2 separate regions of the Homo sapiens genome follow, and region 1 is linked to region 2. The links come from fine-mapping of genetic effects on gene expression. Tissue or cell type: spinal cord. Region 2 holds a variant in brackets; the other region holds the start of a gene. All regions are shown on one strand. Distances are between the middles of the regions.

The links. PIP is the estimated chance that this variant, and not a neighbour inherited with it, causes the effect.
Region 1: LINC01203 starts here. The variant in region 2 is the best candidate, but not a certain one, in a credible set for the expression of LINC01203 in spinal cord (GTEx, PIP 0.60).

The regions. Positions count from the first base shown.
Region 1 is chrX:13,334,000-13,336,691 of GRCh38, forward strand. LINC01203 (long intergenic non-protein coding RNA 1203) reads left to right here and starts at 1,242. Exons shown (of 7, transcript NR_045260.1): 1 at 1,242-1,313; 2 at 1,483-1,546; 3 at 1,660-1,698; 4 at 2,380-2,461.
Region 2 is chrX:12,818,127-12,820,818 of GRCh38, forward strand. PRPS2 (phosphoribosyl pyrophosphate synthetase 2) reads left to right here. Exons shown (of 7, transcript NM_002765.5): 5 at 1,381-1,554; 6 at 2,518-2,677. Among named protein-coding and RNA genes, the nearest start is that of PRPS2, 28 kb to the left of the region's middle. RefSeq lists an enhancer at 1,681-2,692. The variant C/T (reference allele first, on the strand shown) is at 1,707.

The sequences.
Region 1 (2,692 bases), 520 kb after region 2:
ACGAGTGTTTTCCCTTGGCATTATGCAAGCATCCAGTTACCTTTGATAGGCCCTGAAATGATGAAAGAGACGAAGGGAATTTGCAGGTGTACAGGTAGAATGAGACATTTAGGAAACACATTTTCAACAGTATATTTTTTAGGTTCATTTGAAGAGGTCACAGTGAGCCTATCAGTAATAGTTAACAGGGGTCATTGCTCGTATGGATGTGCATGATAATGTGGGCCTAAAACACAGCCCAGCCCATCTGATCTTCCCTTATATAGGTAAGTGGTGGTGTCCCTAACACTTCTGTTACTATGATTTTGTTGTAGCTGTTCAAGTAAGAAATGATAGAGCTCTTACCAATTTAAAAAAACATTATTTTTCTCACTTTTTATATTTTAGAATAACTTTATGATTAACCTCTGAGTTTTGAGTGATAGTGCCTATCCTGGTTATTGGTGTTTCTTACCACAGCAGTAACCAGGGGATTTTTACAGGTGTCCTGTCAAGAAATGACCGTCTTACCTGACAGTGGTATTGATCTTGCATTATTACAAGTATCCAGGTAGAGTTTATGTGTTCTGTAATGATGGAGTGACGAAGGTTATTTTCAGATGTCTTGGTGGAAATGTTTGTGTCCTTTAACACATATTTCACAATGTGTATTTCAGGTTTCTGTAGTGAGACCCTGATAAACCTAACAATGGTTGGTATGGCAGACATTTCTGGTATGCAGGCAAGTGATGATGTGTTCTTTAACCACATCATAGACCATCAGATCTTCTTATATCTTTTTTTTTTTTTTTTTTGACAGAGTCTCGCTTTGTCACCCAGGCTGGAGTGCAGTGGGGTGATCTCGGCTCACTGCAGCCTCCACCTCCCAGGTTCAAGCGATTCTCGTGCCTCTGCATCCTGAATAGCTGGGATTACAGGTGTGCACCACCACATCCTGCTGATTTTTGTATTTTGAGAGATGGGGTTTTGGCACGTTGGCCAAGCTGGTCTCGAACTCCTGGCTTCAAGCAGTCCACCCACCTTGGCCTCCCAAAGTGCTGGAATTACAGGCGTGCACCACCACGCCCGGCCAGATCTTCATATATCTAAGTAAGTGTTATACATTTACCTAAACTTTTTTACTGTGTGATTTTTTTCCATAGGTACTCAAGTAAGAAATGATAGTCTTTACTAACTACAGCAACCATGTTATCCTGCTGTTTTATATTTTAGAGAAAATTTATGTTTAACTTTGTGATTGGCGAGCTATTTGCTATCCAAGGAATTAACCATGGAGTTGCATGTCATAGTAGCAATTGTGGGTTTGTTTGCAGGTAAGTAGTAGAGAGAAAATGGTATCTGTAACAGTGCTATAGACCTTGCAGTACTGCAAGATTCCAGGTATACTTGATGGTTCTTGGAATGATGGTAGTGAATAAGCTTAATTGTGGGGTTCAAGGAAAAAAGCTGTGTCTACACACATTTGTCATAATGTGTTTTTAGGATCCTGTCAAGAAGACATGGTAAACCTCATCATGATCAAGAATGAGACTTTGCTTGCATCCAGGTAAGTAATGACGTGGGCCTTAAGCAAGCACTCAGAAAACAATCTGATCATCAGATCTATAATTAAGTGTGGATGGTGCTTCTAACTTTTGTGTTACCATGGTTTTTTTGCAGGCATTCAGTTAAGAAATGATGTTTTCCCAACCAAGGCTAGTAAGCATTAGCCCTTATTATTTTACAGTTTAGATATAATGTGTAGTATCTAACCAAGCTGGGCATAGTTGCATGTGCCTATAGTATGAGCTACTCTGGAGGCTGAGGCGGGAGGATCACTTGAGCCCAGGAGGTTGAGGCTGAAGTGAGCTGTGATCACACCACTGCACTCCAACTTGGGTAACAGGACAAAACCCTGTCTCTTAAAAAAATAAAAGAGATATAATGTGTGTTTAACATTAGTCTCTAAGGAGGGCTATGCCGGTATCCAGGTGAGTTATCCTACTCTTCCACATTATAGTATGAACAATGAGATTTCTAAGTCAAGCGATGATGGTATCTCTAACATTAGTGTTGATCTCAAAGTTCTACTAAGATCGAGGTAGTGTTGGTGGTTCCTCTAATGAGGAAAATGACTGATACAAGTTGCAGGTGCCCCGTCCTTTTTTGCAGGTAAAACAGCGTGTTTCATTAAACACATTCATCATTGAATGTGTTTCTTCAGGTACCCATAGTCATGAAATCATAGTGAACCTAACAGTGGTCATTTATGTGTTCTTGGTAGTAACCAGGTCAGTGATAAATTGGGTCTTACCACACTACAGACCACCTGTTCTTCAGATTTTTAGGTAAGCAAGTATGGTCCCTCTAACACAGTGTTACTGTGTTTGTCTTTTTCAGGCTTCCCAAAAGTTGTTTGATAGTATACAGGCATGAGATGGTGTGACTCTAACTCATTAGATGCCTTCGTCTTTTCAGTCATGTAAGTAATGAATGGTGTTTTCAAGGCCGTTACATAAACCTTGTTTATGGCATGTATGCAGTTTAAAAATTAAATTATCCCTACTACTAACAGGAACCATGAGTTTTTAATGTATTTTTCTTTTGAGATAATGTGTATTTAACACTTGTACTGATAGACATATATGCAGGTATCTTGCTATTTTATCATATTGCTCATCACCACATTATTGGCCATGGGATTTTTGGAGGT
Region 2 (2,692 bases):
GGGAAGCTGAGGTGGGCGGATCACCTGAGGTCAGGAGTTCGAGACCAGCCTGGCCAACATGGAGAAACCCTGTCTCTACTAAAAATACAAAATTAGCCAGGAGTGGTGGTGCATGCCTATCACCCCAGCTACTCAGGAGGCCGAGGCAGGAGAATCACTTGAACCCAGGAGGCAGAGGTTGCAGTGAGCCGAGATTGTGCCATTGCACTCCAGCCTGGTCAACAAGAGTGAAACTGTCTCAAAAAAAAAAAAAAAAAAGAAAAGAAAAGAAACACTGGTTGTGTTGTGAAAATCCTCAGAAATAGGGAGGGGAGCCTGGAGCACCTAACTGCCCTTCCCACTGCCTTCTCAGCCCCAGAGAGTGTCCCCTCTGTCCTTCATCAGAGCACGCGAGGAGCTCCATTCCTGGTCGTCATCTGAGGATGACACAATGAGTAGGACTAGGACTTTAAAACTAGTGTGTGGAGGTTATATCCTCCATGTACTGCGTCTTAAGTTGGGCCATGTGTGTATTGGTCCCCAAAGCATTTTTTCAGCTAAATTGCATAATGACTGTTATTTTAAAAACTGGAAAAGGAAAATCTTAATGTTACATTATACCTGTGGCATTGTCTTGAAATAAGTTTCACCATTTAAATCCACTCTTCACAGGAAAATCTGAAATGCCCCAGGCTCACCAGCAAGCGAGGCCTGCCCACTTTCTCTTCCTGTTGGCAGCTCAGCTCCTCCTGAGCTAGTGATTTTTTTTTTTAAAGAGATGGGATCTTGCTATGTTGTCCAGGCTGTATTCGAACTCAGACGCAAGCCATCCTTCTACCTGCGACTCCTGAGTAGCTGGGCCTACAGGCACGATGCCATGCCTGGCACCATTGATGTCTGAGCATTTGCCTTAGATGAGCAGAGGAGCTGGACTCACAGTTTAAAGTCTCCTTAGACCTTGAATGCAATGAAGCCCATCCTGACTAGCCTACATATTAGATGGCTGTATTAACCAGGACTTTTGTCCCCACTATCTGTGCCACAAACTGGGCAAATAGTAGTTCCTAAATAACTTACTTTAAGTTGTACCTGTCATGGTTTTAAAATGCTACCCACAAATACTAACAAACTGAATATCAAATTCTTACCCAGTAGTTCTATCCAGTGGCCAGGGTGCCCTGACGGTCATTCCTAGCTGCCCCAATTGCAAGGTCCGCCATTAGCACATTTCTCCCTGTGGATTGCTAAGTGCCTGCCCCAGACCATGCCTGGGCTGATCAAGAGAGGCCTGATTCTTGCATCATCTCTCGGGTGTGGTTGCCTGCTACATTCCCAAAATACAACTTTAAAGGCGAGATCTCTAGTTGACTGTATGAACATGTTCATTTGTGCCTTTGCCAGGGTTACATCAATTGCAGACAGGTTGAATGTGGAATTTGCTTTGATCCACAAAGAGAGGAAGAAGGCGAATGAAGTGGACCGGATGGTCCTGGTGGGCGACGTGAAGGACCGTGTGGCCATCCTCGTGGATGACATGGCTGACACTTGCGGCACCATCTGCCATGCTGCGGACAAGTACGCAGGGCGGTGGGGAAAGCGTTAGGACTTCTCACTAGGAAAGGGAAACACATCAGCTTTTAGAAATTGGGCTCTTTTTTCCTGATTATTGCCGGTCTTGGCAGTGGAGTTTTAGACCAAAGGAGATTCTAGGCCCTTTTATCTTTATA[C/T]TTCTTTCTCTGGTAGAAAAGAAAGCACGGGCCTTTTCGTTTTCCAGGGTGAGCTTGTAGTGTACCTGGAAAAAGGTCAAAGAAGGTGCTTCCCTTTGCACTGAGCACGACAGGAAAGATGGTTTTTCGGGCTTCTTCAGGCCCTAGCTTCCTTCCATTTGGCTTTCGTGCCAGCCTTCTCAGCCACATGGGTGTCTGGAGGATTTGTAGAGCTGCTGCCCAGTATGGAAGCCCCCACCCAGCCACACGTGGCCGTGGAGCTCTTGGAATATGGCCAGTCTGACTTGAGATGTGCTGAGAGTATAAAAAGGCCACTAGGTTTTGGAGACTTAATATGAAACAATGAATATATATCTCATTTACATATATGTTTTTATGTTGATTACACATCAAAACAATGATGTTTGGCTATATTGGTTTAAACAGGTGGTTCTCAACCAGGAGTGATTTTGCTCCCTGGGAGACATGTGGCAATGTCTAGAGACATTTTTTGTTGTCACGGCTGAGGGGTGGGTTGTCGTTAGTGGGTAGAGGCCAGGGATGCTGTTGAATTTTCCCATAATGCGTAGGACAGCCCCCGTGACAAAGAATTATCCTGGCTCAAGTGCCAAGGTTGATAGTCCCCGATTTAATGGAATACAAAGTGTTTTGCTCATGCTTGAGTGATCCTATCTTAGGTTAATAAATGTGAGTGAAATTTGTTGCATTTTTCTTTTACGGAGCACACTTTGTGCTTTTACCATTCATACTAGGGGAGAGTATTCCAAGAATATTTGCATACCCTTAATTTTTATCTTCTGCTGTTCTACAGGCTGCTGTCAGCTGGAGCCACCAAAGTGTATGCTATCCTTACCCATGGGATCTTCTCTGGACCAGCTATTTCCAGAATAAATAATGCCGCCTTTGAGGCTGTTGTCGTCACAAACACAATTCCGCAAGAGGACAAAATGAAACACTGCACCAAGATTCAGGTACTGTCTATACAC